Linked DNA regions of Homo sapiens. The protein of the gene in region 4 purifies or fractionates together with the protein of the main gene of each other region. This does not show direct contact. Each region holds a gene or a part of one and is shown on either strand. Other genes may lie near its edges.

The links.
Region 1: the proteins of BTNL2 (region 4) and CELSR1 purify together in Homo sapiens (affinity purification with mass spectrometry; one large-scale study listed by BioGRID and IntAct). This does not show direct contact.
Region 2: the proteins of BTNL2 (region 4) and OTOA purify together in Homo sapiens (affinity purification with mass spectrometry; one large-scale study listed by BioGRID and IntAct). This does not show direct contact.
Region 3: the proteins of BTNL2 (region 4) and SUMF1 purify together in Homo sapiens (affinity purification with mass spectrometry; one large-scale study listed by BioGRID and IntAct). This does not show direct contact.
Region 5: the proteins of BTNL2 (region 4) and THSD4 purify together in Homo sapiens (affinity purification with mass spectrometry; one large-scale study listed by BioGRID and IntAct). This does not show direct contact.
Region 6: the proteins of BTNL2 (region 4) and DGCR2 purify together in Homo sapiens (affinity purification with mass spectrometry; one large-scale study listed by BioGRID and IntAct). This does not show direct contact.
Region 7: the proteins of BTNL2 (region 4) and ADGRG1 purify together in Homo sapiens (affinity purification with mass spectrometry; one large-scale study listed by BioGRID and IntAct). This does not show direct contact.

The regions. Positions count from the first base shown.
Region 1 is NC_000022.11:46,384,121-46,387,620, forward strand, and holds part of CELSR1 (cadherin EGF LAG seven-pass G-type receptor 1 isoform 1 precursor), read right to left. Parts: intron 2,466-3,500; coding exon 2,282-2,465; intron 567-2,281; coding exon 423-566; intron 1-422. UniProt on the Homo sapiens protein: Receptor that may have an important role in cell/cell signaling during nervous system formation.
Region 2 is NC_000016.10:21,750,968-21,754,467, reverse strand, and holds part of OTOA (otoancorin isoform 1 precursor), read right to left. Parts: intron 2,534-3,500; coding exon 2,391-2,533; intron 2,100-2,390; coding exon 1,963-2,099; intron 1,442-1,962; coding exon 1,344-1,441; intron 1-1,343. UniProt on the Homo sapiens protein: May act as an adhesion molecule.
Region 3 is NC_000003.12:4,460,770-4,464,269, reverse strand, and holds part of SUMF1 (formylglycine-generating enzyme isoform 1 precursor), read left to right. Parts: intron 1-3,500.
Region 4 is NC_000006.12:32,397,182-32,400,681, forward strand, and holds part of BTNL2 (butyrophilin-like protein 2 precursor), read right to left. Parts: intron 1-3,500. UniProt on the Homo sapiens protein: Negative regulator of T-cell proliferation.
Region 5 is NC_000015.10:71,121,971-71,125,470, reverse strand, and holds part of THSD4 (thrombospondin type-1 domain-containing protein 4 isoform 1 precursor), read right to left. Parts: intron 1-3,500. UniProt on the Homo sapiens protein: Promotes FBN1 matrix assembly.
Region 6 is NC_000022.11:19,066,913-19,070,412, forward strand, and holds part of DGCR2 (integral membrane protein DGCR2/IDD isoform 1 precursor), read right to left. Parts: intron 1,314-3,500; coding exon 1,188-1,313; intron 1-1,187. UniProt on the Homo sapiens protein: Putative adhesion receptor, that could be involved in cell-cell or cell-matrix interactions required for normal cell differentiation and migration.
Region 7 is NC_000016.10:57,656,130-57,659,629, reverse strand, and holds part of ADGRG1 (adhesion G-protein coupled receptor G1 isoform b precursor), read right to left. Parts: intron 3,405-3,500; coding exon 3,359-3,404; intron 3,117-3,358; coding exon 3,013-3,116; intron 2,258-3,012; coding exon 2,139-2,257; intron 236-2,138; coding exon of another isoform or gene 218-235; coding exon 1-217. UniProt on the Homo sapiens protein: Adhesion G-protein coupled receptor (aGPCR) for steroid hormone 17alpha-hydroxypregnenolone (17-OH), which is involved in cell adhesion and cell-cell interactions.

The DNA.
Region 1 (3,500 bases), on a different chromosome or scaffold from region 4:
AGACGGGGTTTTACCACGTTGGCCAGGCTGGTCTCGAACTCCTGACCTCAGGTGATCTGCCCGCCTCGGCCTCCCAAAGTGCTGGGATTACAGGCGTGAGCCGCCGCGCCTGGCCTGGATTTTGATTTTTTTATTGTTTCATGCTTACGCTCCAATGAGCATTTCCTTTAAGTGTCAGGTTGGTGCTCAAGAAGGTTCAGGTTCTGGGGCATTTCAGATTTCAGGATTAGGATGTTCAGCCTGTACCTGAGCACTTGAACAAAACAACCTGCTGTCACCAACAGGACCTGGCACCAGAGAGCACTCGGAACACTCTGGCCCAGATCTTCAGTGCGCAGGTCCTGCGATGCCCGCAGCGGGGCCCTCCCCTCCCTGAACGCTGGGGACTCCGAGGGCAGCAGCAGGTTTCTAAGCGGTTTTACCTTTTTCTTCAGGTGGTCTGAAGAAGTCGGCTGGGAAGGAGACGGAGGACTCCAGCTCCCTGGGGAACTCTTCATGGATGGTGTCGAATCGCGGGACCCTGGCTCCCGTAAAGTTGAACTTGTCAAAGATGTCGACAGCAAGAACTGGGGGGACAGTTCCTTTAATCAGACATAACTCCCAGGGCTTTCTTGAACCCCTGCTGTTTTCAAAATGACCACAACTGTCACACTGACGCTGGCTGGCCATATTTATTTATTTATTTTTGAGGTGGAGTCTCGCAGTGTCTCCCAGGCTGGAGTGCAGTAGCGCAATCTCAGCTCACTGCAACCTCCGCCTCCCAGATTCAAGCAATATCTCCTGCCTCAGCCTCCCAAGTAGCTGGGATTACAGGCAGGCACCACCACGCCTGGCTAATTTTTTGTATTTTTGGTAGAGATGGGATTTCATCATGTCGGCCAGGCTGGTCTCAAACTCCTGACCTCAAGTAATTTGCATGCCCCGGCTTTCCAAAGTGCTGGGATTACAGGCATGAGCCACCACGCCCAGCCTATTTACTTATATTTATTTTTGAGACAGGATCTCACTCTATCACCCAGGCTGGAGTGCAGTAGCACAATCTCAGCTCACTGTAGCCTCGTCCTCCTGCGCTCAAGCGATCCTCCCACCTCAGCCTCAAGTAGCTGGGAATACAGGAGCATGCTACCACACCTGGCTAATTTTTATTTTTTATTTTTAATAGAGACAGGGTCTCACTATGGCGCCTGGCTGGTTTCGAACTCCTGGGCTCAAGCAATCTGCCCATCTCAGCCTCCCAGTGCTGGGATTACAGGTGTGAACTACCACGCCCAGCTGACTGACCATCTTTAGAACAGAACTGACTTCCAACTTCCTGCATCCCGCCTGTACTTACACCTGTCTACAGTGAGCCTGGAGTGAGGCGGGGTCCTCGACACCCACCCTTCTAGAGTCTCACACCTGAGGGTTTGGAAGCCCTGCCGGACCCCCAAGATCATGGCCCAACATCTCCCTAGCCCGGGACCTGTCCCCTGGGAGCCACGGGTACGTCATCACAGACTGTCTTCCCAAAGGCTCCATTTACAGATGAGGAAACAGAGGCCTACCTGCCGAATATTTTTTTTTTTTTTTTTTTTTGAGACGGAGTCTGGCTCTCTCGCCCAGGCTGGAGTGCAGTGGCATGATCTCGGCTCACTGCAAGCTCCGCTTCCCGGGTTCACGCCATTCTCCTGCCTCAGCCTCCCGAGTAGCTGGGACTACAAACGCCCACCACCACGACCGGCTACTTTTTTGTATTTTTAGTAGAGACGGGGTTTCACCATGTTAGCCAGGATGGTCTTGATCTCCTGACCCTGTGATCCGCCCACCTTGGCCTCCCAAATTGCTGGGATTACAGGCGTGAGCCACCGCGCCCGGCTTTTTTTTTTTTGAGATGGAGTCTCGCTCTGTCACCCATGCTGGAGTGCAATGGCGCAATCTCAGCTCACTGCAACCTCTGCCTCCCAGGTTCAAGTGATTCTCCTTCCTCAGCCTCCTGAGTAGCTGGGATTACAGGCATGCACCACCACACCTGGCTACTTTTTGTATTTTTAGTAGAGATGGGGTTTCACCATTTTGCCCAGGCTGGTCTCCAACTCCTGACCTCATGTGGTCTGCCTGTCCCGATCTCCCAAAGTGCTGGGATTACAGGTATGAGCCACTGTGCCCGGCCTCACAATCATTTTTCTAAGAGCATGGCCAAGGGGGGGCCGGGAGCCCACCTGCTTCACCCCATGGGGGCCTAGCTCTGGGGCACACCCCTGATGGTAGCAGGGTTCCACCCCCAACGCAGCCAGCGCCTTACTCATGTTGGCGGTGACGATGACGAAGGGCCGCAGGTACGTCCGCCGCACGTTGCGTGCCACGTTGCTGAAGTAGCCCTCGAGGCGCCGGAGCAGCTGTGCCGTGCCGCCCTCGCTCCGCTGGATCTGCTCCCACGCCGCCCTGGTGGCTGGGGCCAGGAGGGCGCTGCCCGAGTGGATGACGTCCTGGTCAGACAGACAGCACTCAGTACTCAGCCTGCGGAGGCCTGGCTCGTGGGACGGAGGGACACCTGCCCTGAAAGCCTTTGCTTGCCTAGTGGGCTCATTCATTCATTCCAGCCCTACACTTTAGACTGTGCTCTTTAATATTAGTTGTTTTTTGTTTTTTGTTGTTTTTTGTGTTTTTTTTTGAGACACACTTCCGCTCTTGTCGCCCAGGCTGGAATGCAGTGGTGTCATCTCGGCTCACTGCAACCTCCGCCTCCTGGGTTCAAGGAATTCTCTTGCTTCAACCTCCCGAGTAGCTGGGATTACAGGCACACATGTGCCACCACACCCGGCTAATTTTTGTATTTTTAGTAGAGACGGGGCTTCACCATGTTGGCCAGGCTGGTTTTGAACTCCTGACCTCAGGTGATTCACCTGCCTCGGCCTCCCAAAGTGCTGGGATTACAGGCGTGAGCCACCACGCCTGGCCTAGTTCCCAAATATTTTTTCAAAAAGTTTATCTTAAGAGGAATAAAAAAATGTTACTAAGCTCACAAAGTATATTAAAATCTAGAGAATTAAAGATGCTTCATATTCTTAGCTTAATTTACTAGATGTACAAGCACTGCTTAAATGCTTGGAAGGTCTGTTTGCTAGCCGAACAATTGAAATACAAAACAAAAAATCAACTACATGACATATATTAATTCCATTTAAAATACTTAGGGGAATTTCATGGTCTAAGTTTATAAATAGGATCAAACATTAATCAAAGTTGAATTCAAATAGATAAGGAAGTCTTTTTGTTTGTTTGTTTTGTTTTTGTTTTTTGAGACAGAGTTTCACTTTGTTGTCCAGCCTGGAGTGCAGTGGCACAGTCTTGGCTCACTGCAGCCTCTGCCTCCCGGGTTCAAGCAATTCTCGTGCCTCAGCCTCCCACCACCCCGCCCAGCTGATTTTTTTCATATTTTAGAAGAGACAGGGTTTCACCATGTTGCCCAGGCTGGTCTCGAACTCCTGGGCTCAGGCAATCTGCCCATCTCGGCCTCCCAA
Region 2 (3,500 bases), on a different chromosome or scaffold from region 4:
TGCTGGGATTACAGGTGTGAGCCACTGCACCCGGCCTCAGCTATCTTTCTTGAAATGAACAAGTGATGTGGCACTGGGGGAGTTTGTCGAGCCTGGTTTGTGTGTTTTATCCAGAAGTGCTGGACAAAATGTGTTCCCACATTACGCAGCAAACAGGAACACCAGAATGACTGCCTCCTCATCAGAGCAGACTATTCCCACCAAACACTCCCCTAATCTTGTATACAGACAGAAAAAAAGGACCTGTCATTAGATACCCTGCTTCCCTTCCTTCAAATGATCCAATTTCACCCTCTCAATTTTTTCATAGCAGTTTTTCACCTGTCCTCTTGTGATTTTCCTAATACTTTTCTTTAAATCAACTAAAAATATATATATATAGAAAAAAATATATATATATAGAGAGAGAGAGATGGTTTCGCTCTTGTTGCCCAGGCTGGAGTGCAATGGTGTGGTCTTGGCTCATTGCAACCTCTGTCTCCCGGGTTCAAGTGATTCTCCTGCCTCAGCCTCCCAAGTAACTGGGATTACAGGCATCCACCACCACGCCCAGCTAATTTTGTATTTTTCATAGAGATGGGGTTTCACCACATTGGCCAGGCTGGTCTCAGACTCCTGACCTCAGGTGATTGGCCTGTCTCAGCCTCCCAAAATGTTGGGATTACAGGTGTGAGCCACCATGCCTGACCTAAATCAACTAAAATATTTTTATTTAATTATATCTTAAAAGGAAATGTTACAGAGGTCCACAATCCCTCATCTGCAATTCCAAAGTCCAAAAATAATCTGAAAACTGCAAGTTTTCCCCCAAAGTTTAAGTCAAACTTATTTATCAGCAAAACTTGACCTGAAGTAATGTGAGGCTATTTATTTATAGTCTCTATTTATTCCAATTAGTGTGGCTTGTCACAGATTTCTTCACAGAAATATTAATGTGTTTGCTTACAAGGTGCTTCCCCAGACACTGCTGGGGGTATGAAGTTACATACAGTAAATGTACAGGGTGATCTTTTCAAAATCTGAGAAATTCTGAATTCTGAACTATATCTGTCCCCAGGGGTTTTCGTAAGGGTTTATGAACCTGTCATACCACCATAAGTAGAAAATCAGTACCACCTGCTAGAAGAAGAGAAGATGACCGTAAAAATAAATATAATTAAACTACATATTGTAATTTTAAGAAAAATGTTTTTTAAAAACACCTAAACTCACACAGATCTCCTCTGACCCCATCAGCAGAGCCTGGTCACAAGCCTCTAAATTCCAAGGCCCATCACCTGTTTCCCTGTGTGATTTGAAATGGGGTCAAGCTCCCATTTCTCCTTGAAGAACTGAGCACCTACTTTGAATATCTCATCAGGAAGGCATTTTATTGCTGATGGCTGGAAATATGGCATCAAATCCTTGTCAAGCATCCGGAGCTCTGCCTTAGTTAATCCAGCTGGGGAGAAAAAGGAATCACGGGGGTTTAGTTCAAGCCATCAGAACTCCGCTTGTTTTATTAATGGTGCTGCATAATGTTCAGATCTGAGTGTTCTAGGCAGGCATCATTCCTTACAAAAGGCCCTGGAAATCACACTGGGGAATCAAGTTCCTTCATCAACTCAGAAAAAAAAAATGTGGGTCACATTAGCCCTGATTGGCCTCCTACAGTGAAACGCATGCCCAGAAGGAACTTCAATTTACACACTTTCAAATTTTGTATAAACCTACTTAGGGGCCAATTAAATCACATTCTAAACTAGCGGTTTTCCAAACTTTAGTGTACACAAGAATCTCCAAAAGAGCTTGTTTTAAAAGCAGATTTGCAGACCCACCCTCTGCAACTTCAAATCATGAAATGTAGGTTCTACTGTAACGCCACTGATGTTTGCTACACATGGCCAAGGATAATGTTTTATTTTGTGTCCCCACATTTAAGTTTGGAAAGAGAGAGAAAGGTATGCTCAGGGTGAGTCTTACCTGCAATGGTCCCAAGCTCCTGCAAGACAGAACTGGTCCACTCAGTGGGATCCCCAAACACAACTTCAGCCTTCCTCTTAAACTCGGCTAAGACATGTGTGCTGCAGAGCAGGGTCCCAATTCTGGCCACTACCACCCTGGTAGTGGTTAAAGAGGGAGGGATATAATATGAGCTTGGACTCTTCAGCCAAAAACAAACAAACACACACACACACACACACACATACACACACACACTGCACAGTAGGCTCAGCAGGGACAGCAGATCCAGCTTATCCCATTAGCCCAGTGGGATTTTAGCCCAGAAAGGTGCCAAGTGTCAGGAGGTGGAATATCTGGATGGATGGATGGATGGATGGATGGATGGATGGATGGATGGATGGATGAATTAACCCATTTGCCATTTTGCACATTCATATTTTAGTTACCTGAATTCTGAGATCTTTATAAGTGGGATTTCAGTGATGTTTATAGCACACAGGGTTGCACCAAGTCCTACCAAATGAAAGCTCTTCAGGTCCTGGATACTGTATCCTGAATCATCCAGGTACCCTTGCAAAATGGATTCAGCCTAAAAAATAGTAAGAATAAAAGATAAACCATCCAGGAATGATCAAGGTCCCCAGGCCTGAGGGGATAAATAAGCTGTTGCTGTAGTCTCCTGACTGATCTCCCATCCTACTCCTCTGGAATCCCCACTCCAAACCATCCTGGCCTCTGCATCCAAGTTCATGTCCTTAAGATACTACTTCAACTGAGTATGTCCCCTAATCTATGAAAGTGTCTTCAGGCAATGAATCTCTTACATCCTTCACCAATATTAAAGGCACTTGTGTCCTGTGTGTCTGCTGCTTATTTCCTTCAGTCACTCTTATGACCCTCAGACAGTTTGGACATACAACTTCTTCTGCATCAGGATCCAAACTTTTCCAGCATCTTTTTCCACAACGTTTCTTCTCCCTTTTTTTTTTTTTTTTCGTTTTTTGGAGACGGAGTCTTGCTCTGTCACCCAGGCTGGAGTGCAGTGGCACAGCTCGCTGCAACCTCCACCTCCCCAGGTTCAAGCAATTCTCGTGCTTTAGCCACCCAAGTAGCTAGAATTACAGGTGCACATCACCACATCTGGCTTTTTGTATTTTTTGTAGAGACGGGGTTTCACCATGTTGCCCAGGCTGGTATCAAACTCCTGACCTCAAGTGATCCACCCACCTCGGCCTCCCAAAGTGCTGGGATTATAGGCATGAGCCACCGCACCCAGCCTTTCCACAACCTCCAACAAAACCTTATAATTTCCTGTCTCTTTGCCTTTGTTCAAACCAGTCCTTTCATCTGAAATGCCCTTCTGCACTTCCAAGTGCAGACATTCTTTTTTTTTTTTCTTTGGTTCAACTCAAATGTCACCTTCTTCATGAGGTTTCAGCCAGAATGATTTTTTCTTCCTCTATGGTCCTACAGAAATATGTTTACCCCTTAATGATTTTTTCTTCCTCTGTGGTCCTACAGAAATATGTTCACCCCTTCAATTCCAATGTTTACTC
Region 3 (3,500 bases), on a different chromosome or scaffold from region 4:
TTTGAGCTAGGCCTTGGAGGAAATATTTTTCGGAGCTGGGAATGGAATTCCAGATTCAAGGACATTCCAAGAAGGAGAATAGTATCAACACATGGCACATTGTGGAAATGCGTGGTGTGTGCTGGGAAACATAAGTGATTTAAGATCTGGGAGTGACATGTTCACACTTTTTAATGTAACACTTTTTAGATGAGTCTTTTTTTGTTTTTGTGTATTCATACAATGAGTGTGTGTGGCAAGGTGAGGGGCACAGAGAAATAACACTGGGCTTTGCCCTCAAGAAATTTTCAGTTTCACTAGAAAGTTATGGCGATTAGAATTGTCTGGGAAACAATATAGATGTTTAAAAATTTAATGTGTATTCCCTCTGGTTATAAAAATATGATTCTCATTGAGAAAATTATCCTAATAGTTTTCTGCGTGGGTTATGATTTTGTAACAAGGAAGCAAAATGTTTTAGTCTGCTTTTATCTTTTAGAAGAGTTATTTGAAAGGCATTTAGGATCATGGGATGCTAAGATTGTAGGTGGCATGTCTGTACATATGGATAAAGTCAGTCTTGATTTCCTGTCTGAGGAGGTTTCTGACTGGTAATGCTTCCCTGGGCAATGAGGCACAATCGAATGCCGTCTCTTCCATGAAACCTTTCCACCTCCTACAAAGAAGTAGTTTTTCTATCCTCTCAGTTCCCATAGCTTATTTTGTTGTTGTTTGATGACAACTTGTATATTTTCTTCAATATGGTGCTAGTGTTTTTTTGTTTTGTTTTGTTTTGTTTTTGAGACGGAGTCTCGCTCTGTCACCCAGGCTGGAGTGCAGTGGTGCAATCTCGGCTCATTGCAACCTCTGCCTACTGGGTTCAAATGATTCTCCTGCCTCAGCCTCCCAAGTAGCTGGGACTACAGGCACCTGCCACCACGCCTGGCCAATTTTTGTATTTTTAGTAGAGACGGGGTTTTACCACGTTGGCCAGGATTGTCTCGATCTTTTGACTTCGTGATCCACCTGCCTCTGCCTCCCAAAGTGCTGGGATTACAGGCGTGAGCCACCGCGCCCAGCCCTAATGTAGTGCTAGTTTTGTAGTTGTCTGATATTCTACATTGGAAGCATTTTTAGATGTTTTAATCTCTATATCCCCCACGTGCCTTATACATTTTAGGCATTCTGTAATAATTTCTTGAATGACCTGTGTTTCCTTTTTTGGTGGATACAGTATTGAGAAACTGCCTTGGGAATAGAGAAGGTCACATACTTTTTCAAGAAACATTTGTAAAGTATTCTTTTGCTGTATTCATCCTCCTAAGAATCCTGTGAGAGAGATCATCTCCCACTTTACAGATGAGGCAACTGAGGCTTAAAGGAATCATATAGCTCAGAACTGCAAGAAACTTTGAATGTCATTTCATCTATGATTAGTGTCTGTCTGTAGAGGCAGGAGGGTGACAGAATGGTATAGATAAATAAGCCCTGTATAGATAGATAAGGCAGGAGTTTGTGGACAGATCCAGAGAGCATGCTTCTCTTATTCACCCAGCTTTCTCATGAACCTTTAGCTTATTTTATTTTATTTTTTATTAGAGGGGACTCAGAACAAGAGCCTTTAGCTTTTAATGTTAAGGTTGAGGAGAGGAAAGAAGGAAAAGGAGAAGTTACACAAAAAAGTTACGTATGAGCTGATTCTATTTTTGTGTACAAGACAAAAATCTTACGGTAGCAAGTGAAAAAAAGACAAGACTGGCTTAAGCAGGAAAAAACTGGAAGGGACATTTATAGCTCCCCTAGTTGGGAAGTTCAAGAGTAAATATGGCCCCAGACACACCTGGATACAGGGCCTCAGGCAGCATCTCCAAGGCCTTTCTCTTTGGCTATCTCTTGGCTCTTCTGCATAGTCGGCTCCATTGTCAGGTAATGTCCCTTCTCCTACTGATAAGATAACTAGAAGAGAAAAAGTTCTTTCCTGGTAGCTCCAGCAAAAGTTCAAAGATGAACTTTGATTGGGTCTTGGGCCTATCCCTAATTACATCTCCGTGGTCAAAAGAATGCTATGGTTGGCCAGGCTTGGTGGGGGTTGGGAAGTAGGATAGAGTCATCCAGTACCCCTGGGCCACTTAGAAAGCTTAAGAAATGGTTTTGGAAAGGAACTTCAGTATTTTACAAGAAGTAGAGGGATTGGGTGCCGGATGGACCAAAATAGCAGTGCCCACTGCACATGGCCTAAGTGTGTAGCCCACATATGGTTCTGTTATTCCAATGAATAATAGAGTCATTCTTTACTTCACTTATGCTTCTGGCTTGAGTGGCAGTGGCAGAAGCTGTGGTGTGGCAGGGAAGGGGTTATCTCACCTTCAGATTGGAGGAGATATGGATTGTTTGAATTTGAACCTTCAGTGAAGAGTTGACTAAAATGGTCCTTTTTATGTGGCTTTGGATCCTACAGAGTGAGACACTTGGTTCTCTGGTTTTCACTTGAATGACATTTGACATTTGTAGGACAGAAAACTTTATTTCATTAGTATAAATGAGAAATTATGATCCACTCAGAGTGATCCAGGCTATTTTTATCTATAGTCTCCAGAATGGAAACTTGGCTTATTCAGCACTGGCTATCTCTGATGGTTAATGAAAGAAGGAAAAAAAAAAAACTCGGCCGGAAGTTCACATGGAAGTCATGATTGCATTAGCATTGTTGGTACTCACCTTGAGGGAGAAGAAGATGAGAAAAGTTAGATAATTGTAAAAGTTCATTAGGTACAATGGGCACAGCTTCCTGTGGTCCTTTGAGCTGAGGGATGAGCAACTGTTCTCCTAACAGGAAGTATTTGCCACAGGAAAGCTTTTTCTTTAAGTCTTTTATGAAATCTCTTATTAGAGCCTCTTAATCATTTTAAGACTGCTCTTGAAACTTTTGTCTGATGTCTTCAATTTTTCTACTTCTTTGTAGAGCTGCTTAAAATGTTGATTTCTCCTTTTAGGACTGGGTTATCTTGTGTCCCAGCACTTAGAGTATAGTGAGAATAATGGACAACCTAGTTCGGTCCTTGACCTACATCTGTTAGACAGGTTTCACTGTGATGTTGACATGTTATGCATGTCTAGAACTGTTATAAATTAAATAGCATTTTTATAATTATGCATAATTCAAATGATAAATTCCTCATTACAGTCATGACCTCATTCAATTGGTAAAGATTTTTGTGTCTGCTGTGGACCATGCACCATGCTAGGCAGTGGGGATATAGAAATAAAAGATTCATTTCTGGTCCTCAAAGAGCCTAGGTTCTAGGGAAGATGAAAACACAGAATTAAGATACTTTGGGTGGGATGCGGTGGCTCATGCCTGTAAGCCCAGCACTTTGGGAGGCTGAAGCAGGAGTATCACTTGAACTCAGAAGTTGGAGACTAGCCTGGGCAACATAACAAGACCTCGTGTCTACTAAAAAAAAAAATTAGCAGGGTGTGTTGGTGTTCACCTGTAGTGCCAGCTGCGTAGAGGCTGAGGT
Region 4 (3,500 bases):
TTCTGAGAGTTTTAATTGCAAAATTATTTTATGAATAAGCCTAACTTAGGAGCTAAGGCTAACTTAGGAGTACACTTTTGTAATAAATAGCTGAGTAGCAGCTGCTGCACTTCTGTTAGTTGCAGGCAGCCAACTGTTGAAACCCTGTTCAAATCGGCAAACGCCAGGCTGCAACCAATAGAGCTGTCTCTGTACCTCACTTCTGTTTTCTGTACCTCATTTCCATTTTCTGTCCATAAATGCTGTCTGACCAAATTGCTGCTTTGAATTCTCTGAAACCGTTCTGATTCTGAGGGATGGCTTGTTTATGAGTCATCCTTTTCTCAGTTAGACTCTGCTAAATTTAGTCTGTCTAAAGTTTTTCTTCTAACACTTCAATTCTGTATGATTTTAAACTACTTCTTAATCTGTCTTAAACTACTTCTTAATGCCTCAGTTTCTTAAACTGTAAATTTGCTATACAACTACCAAAATCATAATGTTTCAGAGTTGAACAAAATAGTTTGCATTAAGTGCCTGGAAGACCCTGCAGCGTGAGCAGAGGTGCACAGACCTGTGAGACTTGAAGGCGTTGGAGCCATCCCCACCCTCTGACGTGGTAATAGGGAGGGGTTTAAAAACATGTCTCATGTGGACTTTTGGTAATGATATTTGAAGAAGCTTTCCTCTAGGTGGACTTTATAGTACCTTGTAAGTCTGGTCCAGCCGCTATATTTTATTTCCCCAATGCTCCACATAGGTGGAGTTATAGACACACACCAGTTGAATGTCCTCAAATAATTTTGAAAATTAAAATTAACATTTTAAGATCAATAATTGGGGAAGTCGGCAAAGTACAAATTGTGAAACAATGATGAATGTAAAAAAGGGGTCTAATTCTCTCACTGTGCAAAGTGGGGAAAGATGTTCTCTGAGGGCTTTCCTGGGCCCAAGCTATATTACATTTTCCATTCTCATCAGGCCCTGCCCGTGCCATTTTTTCTCTATTCTAAATTAAGTGTCGTCCTTTTCTGTTAAATGATAAGAATGGTTTTGCATAAGGTGTGATCATTTATAATAGAAACACAAGCATAAAATTGTTGGTTCTCTGCATAGAGTCACTGGCCAAAGGCGTTAACATCCCATTATGTCATTGGCCGAAAACTGCCAGCTACCTTTGTAGAGAGGAAAGTCCCTGTCAACACAATTTGAATTTTCAGATTATTACCTTCCATTCCAGGTAACAGTTGACTCCCAGTTATTTCCAGCATTTTGTTTGCTTTGTCCTGTAATTTTACCTAAAACAATATTATTTTCCTCTCCTATGTATCTATTAAAGTCTGAAGACAAGAATCAGAAAAAATGGACTAGGGATTAGTTTGGGGCTGTTTCTGCATCCACATGGCTTACGGTAAATTACTTAATAAAACAGACTGTTTCCTCATCTCCTTTATCCATATGAGGATTTTATTCCCTGTCCGTGTGTGACCTGTGCACATATTAGATCTTAAACTGGCTTGCCCTGCCTGACATAGGTAATTAAGAGCTAAAATTGACTTCAATGGAGACTGAAGGAAGCAAAATGTAAGTATGGAGATTCAATTAATTTGATGCATTACAGATACAGACAAAACTCCTTTTGTCCAGAATCCAAGTAAAACTAAAGTTTAAAGTGCTAAAAAAATCATGCAGCCCTGTTTGTTAATAATTGATGTTCTACTAGAATACAAGCTCCTTGGGAGCCACTATGCCTAACCCACTTTTTTTTTCTTTCAATTTTAAGTTCCGGGGTACATGTGCAGGATGTGCAGGTTTGTTACATAGGTAAACATGTGCCATGGTGGCTTACTGCACAGGTCATCCCATCACCCAGGTGTTAAGCCCAGCATCCATTAGCTGTTCTTCCTGATGCTCTCCCTCCCCCATCCCCCAACAGGTGTCCAGTGTGTGTTGTTCCCTGCCATGCATCCATGTGTTCTCACCAATCAGCTCCCCCTTATAAGTGTGAACATGCAGTAGTTAACCTCCTTTTTCTATACGGTTTTGTACACAGCCTTCCAGACAATTTTGTGCTGAAATGTATTGCTTTGTTTTGTTTTGGTTATTGTTTGTATGTTCTGAATGCCTTCTGAATATCCACTGAAAAATTAATTCCCTTCTGGAGCGTGAAGTACACTGAATTATACACTGATTCCTTGAAACCTGATAATCTCATCATCATACCACATAATCCTCTTTCAATCAGCATATTCAATTAATGCACTATCTCATTTCTCAAATATGCTAAGTTATATCTAATCTCTTAGAACTGGACACTACATTAGAGATTAAATTCAACCTGTTCACTTTAAAGATGAGAAAAATAGAGATGAATGAGCTGACAAAGTCACACATAAGTAATTAAGGACTTGCACTGTTAAGTTAGATAGATGTAGATTAGAAGGTAAACATCACCATTTCTTCCTGATTTTTGGCAAACCATGTATGTCTCTAAGATTGTTTCTTAGCTGTAATATGAGGATAAAGCAATTAAACTTTATAATTATTGTAAGAAAAAATGAAATAATTCCCATAACATATTCAGCATCGTGCCTGGCATACAATTAATATTTTTAAAAACTATTATTTTTATAAATGAAAAACATTATTTGTAAGACTACAAGCAGTGATTTCAGTCTTAGGACTTCCATAGAGAGCTGGGTGTCCCATCATTAGAGCTCACCTGCAAAGCTTCCGTGCCCAGAGCCCTCCTCTCCCACCTGACAGGAAGCAAAGGGAAGCTCCATCTTTCCGTGTTGGTTAATTGTGGCCCCGGAGGTTACCATGACTTAGGAACAACAGGACATGGGGTCGTATTGTGTGTGCTGGGTCTCCAGTGGGTCTCAGAGAACTCAGAGGAGTGACTCTTCTCCTAAAACCTTCTTGAGAGACAGACTTGTGTCAACCTGCCCCAAACACTGGCTTTACTTCCTGATCTCAGAAGGGTAAGATACACAGGTGTGTGTCTCTCCTCAGATTGTGGAGTTACTTTGCGCCTTCCAGGGACCCTTCCCTTTATGTTTATGGCCTAATGGGGTTGAAGGTGCCATAGTAGACTCTGGTAGAGATTGGGTTGTGTTTGTTACCCTGATTTTCCTCAAAAACTCTTTTGTGGGCTGAAAGGTGTGCTTAAGCTCACCTAAAGCACACACATGGATACACATTCCTGGAGCAGGTGACTTGATGGAGAGCAAGGAATTGATGGAAAGAGCACATAAGGGATCCACGTTCTATGCACCTAGGCAGGGAGGCAGGCTGGTTGCCTTGGGCTGGGAGAAGAGGCCATAAAAAGGAGGGAGCTAGTAAGGAGGTAAAGGGGAAACTCAAAGGGGCTCAGCCATCGGCTGGTTATGTTTTAAACCACTTATCTCAGGTGCAGCAAAATAATACCCTCAGTCCAACTCCGAGATTTAAAAAACAAAAATTAGGCTGGGTGCAGTGGCTCATGCCTGTAATCCCAGCACCTTTGGGAGGCCAAGGCC
Region 5 (3,500 bases), on a different chromosome or scaffold from region 4:
AAGTAACAATTTCAAAGAGGCTCAGCATGTTTTGGATCTGACCAAATATACAGAACTTTTGAGTGAGGAGGAAAGAAAAGGGAAAAGAGGGAGCAAAAGTTTATTCCACATTCACTGTGTGCCAGACACAAGCCTTGGTGCTCCGTCTATGCTCTCGCCTGCCTTTTACAATAAAAAAATTCCAGCTAGAATCAAGTTCCAAACTCCAGCCAGCAGGCTGTTGGGAGTCAGGCAGAGCTGCTGGACTCCAGGAGAGTACACAATAATAAACCAGTGTAGGGTATAAAATTTTTTCTTTTCTTCTCTTTTCTCTTTTCTTTTCCTTTCCCTTTCCTTGCCTTCCTTTCTCCTTCCCTTTCCCCTTCCTCTTCACCTTCTCTCCTCTTCTCTTCTCTTTCTGGCTGGGTCTCACTCTGTCACCCAGGTTGGATTGCAGTTGCATGAACATGGCTCACTGCAGCCTCAAAACTCCTGGGCTCAAGCAATTCTCCTACTTTAGCCTCCCATATATGTAGCTGGGACCACAGGTGCACACCACCAGCTGGGACCACAGGTGCACACCACCATGCCTGGCTAATAGTTTGATGTTTTGTAGAGATGGAGTCTCACTTTGTTGCCCAGGCTGGTCTCGAACTCCTGGGCTCAAGCGATCTTCTCATCCCGGCCTCCCAAAGTGCCGGGATTACAGGCATGAGCCACCGTGCCTAGCCAGGGTACACAATTTAAGTCACGAAATAGAATGACAATAACAATATTAATAAGGTTATTGGGTACCAAAATTTTGAAATAATATGATTTAAAATTTTTAATTCACTAGAATAACTACCTAAATAATTTAAAATTGTATTAAAGGAACCGCCTATGTTGGTACCATTCAAGCTGATAAATACCCCAATCTTTTGACAGAACTTGTGAATTAAGCATTTTTCTTATGAGCACTGGAATGTCCGTGAATGATTTTGTTGACTATCAGGATATTTTAACATTCACTCTTCCTACAATTTAAAACAATTTTCAAATATTGTAAGCGTCTAGACCAGGGGTCCACAAACTCTGGCCCACAGGTTAAACCTGACCCTCTGCCTGTTTTTGCCACATTTTCAAATGATTGAATAAAAATCAAGAAAAGAACATTTTATGGCATATAAAAATTATATGAAATTAAAATTGCAGTGCCCATAAGTCAGTTTCACTGGAACACAGTCCTGCCTGTTCATTTATCTATTGTCTATGGCTTCTTTTGCACTCAAAAGGCAAAGCTGATTAGTTGCAACAAAGACCACATAGCCTGCAAAGTCAAAATATTAATGTTTGGCCCTTTCCAAGAAAATATGCGGACCCCCAATCTTGACAGTCTGTCAAATGGTGGTGCTGGTGTCAGACTGAAAACACACAGAGATGATGATGATGGTGATGATAACAGCAACAACCACGACCACCAGCTTGGCAACTGAGAAAGCCAAAAAAGCATCACGAGATACCAAGTGGGTAATTTATGAGTGAGCCCACTGTGCAATGTGAGAGAGAGTGCGACCATATGAGAAGCAACAGCAAAGCAAAGCTATGTGTTTTGAGACCATATCAAGTAAATGCACGCTCCACATTTATTCTGTAGGGGGAAAAGTCTGAATTATGAGAGATCTGAATACCGCGAGGTCTTCAAGAATGTAGCCCTCCCATAAAACACAACAGGCTTCTACTTCCTTTCTCCCTCTTCCCTCTCCCCCAACCTTGTTTCCTCCTGTTGGGAGGCAGATCCCACCCCAGGTCTTTCTGAATTCCCACCAATCTGAATCTGATGCCTGTCTGGGTCCCCCAGCCTCTCTACGGCATGTTTATCACAGTGATTTTCCTCTCACCTGCCCGCTGCTAAGGCTGTAAGTATACTATTACTCCCCGCCTCTCACACTCCCAGGCAAGAATACACCTTCTTCATCTGTAAGAAGAAAGAAGTTCTAGTGTTCACCTGCACAACAGTTGGCCCTTCATGCATTGTAGGCTTGAGCAGACACCTTACCTATGCTCTCTCCTCTAATTCCTACGGCATGTACAGAGATTGTTAGCCCATTTCATACATGAGGAAACTGAAGCTTAAAGAGATTAATCTACCCAAAGCCACACATGCAGAGTCAGGTCTGGAATTCACACACTTTACAGTGCATGGCACTGCCACCTGATGCACAGTAGGGGCTCAGAAAGCACTGGATGCCTGAGTGAATGACTGCATAGCAATGCCCACACAGGACCACTAACGCACAGCAGCGCAATCTCAGAAGCAGCCAAGACCTTCCACTCCAAGAGACCTCTGTGGACACTGAAATAACTTCCCTCTCTGGAACTCAGAAAGTCACCACTCGAACAGTACCTCTCACACCCCTTGCTAAGAGTGAGGTATCAAGTTCCTCCAATCTGAGCCTCAGGAAAGAACAGTAACTAGTGAGGAAAGGAAGGGTAGGCAGAAAACAAGCACCTGTTCTGTTTCTGGGTCCCCCTTGTCTGGGCCTCCCAAGTGCAATTTCTCTGAAGACCCCATGAGCAGCACGGACCACTCTTATTACAGCTCTTGCTTTTGACCTGGTAATCACATGGCTGGGAAGTGTATTTCCAAAGCAGAACATGAGATCAGAAATAAATAAACATCAGCAAATTGAACATTCACGTTGGTAGTGCCAATTTTTAGAGTGGGAGAAACTAGAAACAACCTAGATCCCTGATAGAGGGTGGGGAATGGCTAAGGAAACCGTGATGGAGCAAAATGATGAAAAGCATCATTGTGCTTTAAAAAATGGGAACCCTGCTTAGGTGGCAAGTGGGAAATGTTGACACAAAATCCTGTTAGTTGAAAAGACAAATCTGCATGTGCTAAATTAAAACATAAGCCGATATCAAGGAGAAAACAGAGCAATATTAGCAGTGGCATTATGCGTATATGCGCTCATGTGAAAGAGGCCAAGAAGACAGAGCATCCTGTAAGAGGCTGAGAGCAGGGAGAGACCTTTCCTCACTGAGATACTCACTAACTGGCCTGAGAGTTCCTCCCTCCGGCCCCACCGCCAGTATTTGTTTTGGAGTCAGATGACTTGAAATTGAAACATCATTCTGATGTCTACTTGCTGTGTGAGCCTGTGAACATTCCTTAGCCTCTCTGAGCCTCAGTTTTCTAGCTGTAGAGTAGAAATAATAGTGTCTAGTTCACACAGGTTGTTGAGAGGATTAAATAAAAGAACGCAGGTAAATCCCAGTACCTGACACGGAGCTCTGTAATGGCAGCTCCTCCCCGCTTAGCTGACCAGAAGATCCTCTGAACTTCAAGCAGAATGAAATCCTGGGCCTCAACTAAAATATCGCTAAAGTCAAGCAGGTCCTGGGTACTTGTCTGCTCTGGAAAAGAAACTAAATGGAACTAAAGGCTATACTGTCACTACACGCCCTGTAATGAGACTTCAAAACTTGAAGACACAGCTCTACCCTCAGGGCTCACCTTACAACCAGCAATAAAC
Region 6 (3,500 bases), on a different chromosome or scaffold from region 4:
TCAGCCTCAGTGTCTTCACACACCAAGCCTGTGCACCACACTTGCACTGTGGGGACCCGTTCGGGCTGTGGGCACAGGCCGGAGACAAAGTGCATCACCAGGACATGTCCAGCCCTGCTTCAGCCGCACCAACATGCGTGACCACCTGGAAACACCTGGCCCCACTCTGGCCACCCAGGGTTGGTGGGGGTTCTGCCAGAAGCAGACCTGGTCACCTCTGAGGTGCTCCCCAGTGCTGAAAGTCTGGGGGCTGAGGAGTAACACAAGCAGACAGGCCCAAGGCAGGGCAGCAGGCCCATCCAGTATCAGTCCTGCCTGGTCCACAGCCGCTGCTCAGCGTACTTGGGTACCTCGCGCCTGAGAGGGTCTGCTCAGGGCCATTTCAGTGGTGGCTTTTCCTCCCCTCAACCTTCCTTGATGATCTCATGCCCCTTTAAAATTTCAATGTCATAGGTAATTTATTAAATAACTAATCACCTTAAAAATTTTTCTTAAAATGGCTGGACACAGTGGCTCATGCCTGTAATCCTAGCACTTTGGGAGGCTGAGGTGGGTGGATCACCTCAGGTCAGGAGTTCGAGACCAGCCTGGTCAAGGTGGTGAAACCCGGTCTCTACTAAAAATACAAAAATTAGCCGGGCGTGATGGCACGTGCCTGTAATCCCAGCTACTCGGGAGGCTAAGACAGGAGAATCACTTAACCTGGAAGGCAGAGGTTTCAGTAAGCTGAGATTATGCCACTGCACTCCAGCCTGGGTGACAAGCGTGAGACTCCGTCTCTAAATAAATAAATAAATAAATAAATAAATAAATAAATAAGGAGTCGAGCCTTCCCATTTTATTGCTGTATCTAAACTCAGAGCTGGTTTCCTCATTTATAAAAGGGAATAATACAACTTTGGAATTTCCAAGGGCCAGTGCCTTCTGGCCCTGAAAAGCAGTCACTTTGTGAGAACAAGCAGCCTGGCCTCAGAGCCGGTTGACTTCCTAGGGCCTTGAGTCACATACCACCACTCCAGCGCTGGGTGACTGCGGGTGGGTCATCATGCAGCCTCATTCATTCCCCTCACTGGCCTCCAAGGGCTGCTTTGAGAAACCCCTCACGCAGCACAGTAGTGCTGGAAAGGCAGGGGTCATGTCAGGCTTGCACTCCCCAGTGTCCCAGTCAGGGCAGGTCTGCAACTTACTGCTGAAGCGAACGGGCTGCGCCACGTTCACCGCGTGGAAGTGCGAAGGGTCGCCTCCTCTGGCCCGCCCCTGCCGCGGATCCACAGCCTCCTTCCCATGATGAGGACGCACCTCCCCGGTCACTTCTGAAAGCAAAAGGAGATGTGTGCTGTGAGTCCTGCCTGTGCAGTCGCAGTCTCCCTGGCCAGCATGGTTCAGACCACTCAGGGCTGCAAGGCCGGAGGGGGGGCCTGTAGCACAGAGTCCGGCAATGCAGGCTTTCTTTAGAGCCCTATGAAACACTGCCGCTCGCATCAAATGGGTCCCGTGTGCTTCTTATTAAAATTATGCCGTGGCAGTTTTTGTTTTTTAAGTTACTATTGTGAAATGGAGGCCCTCTTCATTGCATTTTCTAACAGGTCATTGCTAGCACAGCAAAGGGTCCTGCATAAATTAAAATCCCTCAGCAGTTCCAGCCCCATGGGGATGGCCCATGAAAGAGTTCTCTCCAGAGCCCAGGCTGCCCCTACCCCTTCCTTGAGGGCCTTCTCTCCCAGTATGAAGGAGACCCACGTGTGCAACCTTCCTCTGCAGCCCTTGTCCTGGGGCCTGAGCTGCCTATCTGTCCCCCTGCCTGCTGGTCCCCCATGGCTGTGAAGGCCTCCAGGCCAGGACCTCAGTATGTTCCTGTCTGGCTCTTTGGTGCTTGGCACAGGCCCTGGTGTGCAGCAGGTCTCAGTGCATGGCTAGAAGGTGTCAACAGGCAGCTGAAGATGAGGAAATAACTATAGTTTTATACAGCATGATCTAATAGTAATTTGCACACCAGTGCTTCCACCCACACACTCTCTTTTGTCCTCCAACCCCCTTGTGAAAAAGGAGAACCACACTCCTCCCATCTCACAAGGTGAAGGGCAGACTCAGAGAAGGGGAGTGACTTACCCAAGGCCATGGTGCAGGGGAGAGGGCCCTCATGGGCCCGCTCACCTCCCACTCTGTACAGGTGTACCCTGATGTGTCATGAAGGGCATCGGGTACAAGGTCAGGTCAGATGGGAAACAAACTTGGTCTGCAAGGCTGCACACAGACAGACGCCTGCCAGCAAGTGCACTCTGGCTGCAGATGGCGAGTGGGGCCTCGGCTCCCCAAGGGAGGTCACAGGGAGGGTTAGGAGGCCTCCTGCAAAGCCTCCTTCCCTGAACCTGAACCGGCAGTCAGCGCCACCTGACGAGCCCCTCTCCAGCAGGTTGGTTCTGCTAGTGTCATAGACTTTGCAATGGTTTTTATTTAATAAAAAATCCACATGCTTTTTTGCTCATGATAAAGTAACAAACATTCAATGTGAAATGCTTGAAAAATACAAAAGTTTGAAAAGACAATAAACAACAAAGGCCATATTTAACTATGCGAGCATCTGCCCCCTCACCAAGTCTCTTTTCTACACAAATCTTTAAGAATACTGGGATCACATCAGACACTCCATTTCACGACTTGCTTTGTAAGCTTAAGACTATAAACAGCTTTCTATATTTTTAAATGGGCTTAGGAACATGACTTTTGATGGCTGCATAGTATTCCACAAATGGATTTCTTTCATCCCCATAATCTCTATGGTTTGAGGTTAGGCTGTTTGCATTTTTTTCATTATTCTAGAAAAGGCTGCCTTAAACACCTTGTACACAAGTGCGTATGTAGTCTCATTTCTGAGACTCTGGATACTCACTCAGTACTCAATAAGCATAGTTCCATAGCTCCTGTCAGGCATGTGATGGGGATGGGTTGCTATTCGACTGGGAATCACTAAAATATAAAATATGCTACCTGTGTCCGAGACACTTTCAACAGAAAGTGAAGACCTCAAAGGGAGAAGCATCTTCAAGGCTTGTGTTTTTTGGTAGAGGTGTCTTTGGGGTACTTTACCACCCCAAAATACAACCTAAGGACCTCAGTGTGGGACAGTAACTGGCACCACGACAGGCCTGATGCTGTAAACACGCAGTACTTGGGGACCATCAGCTCTTTAGGACTGGTCCCATGTCCTAAGCCATGCTACCTGCAGCACCCGACACTCTGGGTAGGAGACTCGACCCACAGACTCGCTGGTAGCTCTGATGCAGGGATGCAGCCACTAGGATGGGGCATCAGCACTTGGTGGAGAAGGGAAGAGCCACCTGAGCTTCTGGGCCTGAGACTGGAAGCTGAGAAAGAACAGAGGGGCTTTCTGGCAGATGGAGCAGCTTTGGCAAAGGGCAAAGGCAGACATATCCGGGATAAACCTGAGGCCAGGCCTGAGTGTGGCTGGAGAATGTCACTGAACTTAAATTCAACATCTC
Region 7 (3,500 bases), on a different chromosome or scaffold from region 4:
GACCTCCACCACGAGTCGGTAGAGGTTGTACCCCTCGAGGCCCATCCAGGAAAGGCAGGTGAGCAGGGAGAAGTGCAGGAAGATGGCACTGGCTCGGCAGCCAGCCTCAGAGCCTGTCAGGGCCACCGGCTCGCTGAGCAGGAAGCTCGTGTCCAGCAGGAAGACGGCCAGCAGCAGGTTCATGTGCACCTTGATGGTGTAGTCCCGAGGTTTCCTCCTGCACGGCAGGGGCACCCTGGTGGGCCAGTGTGGGAAGGTAGAGAGGGGAGTGTGCCCACATCTCCTCCAGGAAGCCTTCCCAGACTGCCCCCCACCCCGACACACACATGCAGTCATACATGGCCCCTATCCTATTCCTGTGGCTGCAGCCAAACTGTTCCCCACATCCCCCTGTGCACCTACTGTGTGCCCAGCACCCACAGACTCAGGCACCACGTGCACGTTTAACAGAAGCCTCAGCCAGGCAGAGCGAGGAAGACAACCACAGTAATAAACCAGATACTCTCAAAGTCAGAGCGGAAACACTTTGGCATTTTCACCATGTTGGAGAATCCATGCCATCCACATTCTGTGTCTTCCCGTCTGTCTGCACAACTGTGCACCTGTGAGTCTGAGTGTGGGCTGCCCGCATCGGTCTGTCTGAGGTTTGCAAGTCAATGTGTGCACACCCCACCCCACCCCCACTCCAGGATTCTACATGGCCCTAGAGGGTGCAGCAGAACATGCAGGCCCCAGTGTCACCATCCTGGAGTCCCACCCTGCCCTGCCCCTAACTCATGGCACCATCTTCAGCTGGTCCCCTCCCCTTGAGACTCTCAGTTTGCCTATCTGTGAAGTGGGAGGATGGTACCCTCATAGGGTTGGGGTGAGAGTTACACTGACACAAAGCATCTGACACAGATAAGGTGCTCAGTTCCTAAGGGTTCCTGTGCTGTGTCCTTGGGCATGTTTGTGAGCAACTGGGTGTTGAGGACTTCTGCCTCCACCCCCAGCCTTCCGCCGAGCCCATCTCATCACCCAGCTGTCCTTCCTCATCACCATCACCTACTTAGCTCCCCAGGTACACAGCTGTGCACACACAGGACAGTCATATAGGCACACACGTGCTTGTGCACACGCATAAATACAGCTTCACTTTCCTCTCCTTCCTCGTGGCTGGGGACAGTGAGAACCGAGGGTGCCTCTCCTCTACCCAAATGGGTTCAGCGCTGAGGGCAAGTGGACCCCAATTTAGGCCAAGCCAAGCACTGACAATCTGACCTCTGCCACTTCCTTGCTGTGTGACCTCAAGCAAGTCACTTACCCTCTCTGAGTGTTCCTTCATAGGGCTGTTGTGAGGATGAATTGAGTTCACACATGTAAAACACTTAGAACAGTGCATGGCACACGGGAAGTTTGACACACGTTAAGTATGATCATTACCGCTGTGATATTATTGTGTCCACCCAGTGCTCTCACAAATCTGCTTATTCAAAGGCAGAAATGAAAAATCTTTCCTTTTTTAAGTTTTTTATTTTGCTTTCCTGTCTTACTCTAGGAAAGAAACAGATTCTTAGGTGGACTCTCTCAATTTTAAATGTTGACAATTAGCCTGGCACAGTGACTCATGCCTGTAATCCCAGCGCTTCGGGGGGCTGAGGTGGGTGGATCACTTGAGGTCAGGAGTTCGAGACCAGCCTGAGCAACATGGTGAAACCCCGTCTCTACTAAAAATATACAGATTAGCCAGGTGTGGTGGCAGGCGCCAGTAGTCCCAACTACTCAGGAGGCTGAGGCACAAGAATCACTTGAACCCGGGAGGCAGAGGTTGCAGTGAGCCGAGATCATGCTACTACACTCCAGCCTGGGCGACAGAGGCAAGGCTCTGTCTCAAAAAAATAATAATAATAAAATAAAAATAAAAATAAATAAATACAATGTCGACAGCTAAAATTTGTAAATACTATGTTATCCAAACACCACTGATCTGAGGAGGAGACGTGGCCCCCAAGGGTCAGCTTACCCCAAACAGCTCCCCTAACCACACACACAGTTCCAGGTCATGCGGGCGGGCCATGACCGGAGATGTGTGCGGCGCCCTGGTGGAGGTGTGTGCAATGGAGGGTCCCCTCCCCTGTCCCACCCCTTTCAGGCCTCACCTGGAGCAGAGGTAGGCGGCAATGGTGACAAGGCAGGCCAGGGCAGAGACGACACAGCCCACGTAGGAGAGGAGGCTCAGGTAGTGCTTGTGCACGGCGTCCACCTCCACCGAGGAGACCTGGCCCCAGGAGACAGGAGAGAGCTGGCCTCTGTGTCCCCCACACAACCTGGAGGCTTGCCCTGCGTGAGGGGCTAACCTGGGGTCCCTGGTGGGCCTCGGAAGCCTAAGAACCCCCTCTCCCAACTGAGCAGAATGTGGTCCCATAAGTGCATTTTTCTGGAGTGGGGGCATCTTTAGATTTGACCACATTCTCAAGCGGCTTCCTGACCCACAGAGGCCAAGAACCCTTCATGAGAGAACCCCTATTCTGTCCTGGCATTGATTATTCTTCTATAACATTTAACATGGGAATAGGTTTCCTGTGAGGGAATGAGATTCCCACACCCAGGGGTGTTCAAGCCCCAGGTGGATACCCACAGGCAGAATCCTACAGTCCTGGGAGCATGAATTCTGAGGTCTTGGGGGCACTGGAGGCCACCTCAGGGGCCTCATTAGAAACACTCTTGGCCCCATCACTGCCAAATCAGAACCCTAGGTGAGGGCCAGGAATCTGCATTTTCGTACACACCAAAATTTGGGAATAAAGAGCAGGGGCTCTACAAACCAGCTCTTTCACTGACTAGCTGTGTGGCCACGGGTAAATTGCTTAACCTCTCTGAGCCTCCATTTCCTCATCTATAAAATGGGACAACAATAGAAGCTACCTTGGAGAGCTGTTATGAGGAATAAATGACTGAATATATGAAAAGTGCTTGCACAGAACAAGCACACGGCCTGGGGTGTGGCTGCGAGGTGGGAGCAGGGACCCTCACCATCAGCACTGCAAAGTAGGTCAAGTGGTTGCAGAAGCAGGATGTTTGGGTTTCTCTCCTGACGGTCTCACACCCAGCACTGCTCCAATGCCCCGGGCTGCTCACTGAGGAGGGGACAGCACGGGGCTCCAATCAAGTCCAGTCCTCCAGGACCCCACTGTGTCCACCCCCAAAAGCACGACTGTGTCATTCTTCCACCCGGCCTACTCATAGCCTGCCATCGCTCTCTCTTCAAAGTCCTCCTTTCTCCAGGAAGCCCTCGGTGATTAACCCCACCTCCCCCACCCCCCAGGACTCTATTTCTCTTCCAGATACTTGTCCAGCCCAGAGACCCCTGCATACTCACATGTGGGGTCTTCAACCCAGAACACACATTGCAGAGTCACATTCTTCTGTAGGGACAAGAAAGGAGAGTGGTTTCTGTGACAGCCCCCCACCCCTCCAACTTTACAGGCCAGGCAGAGGAAGTCTAGAACACAGTCAAGCCA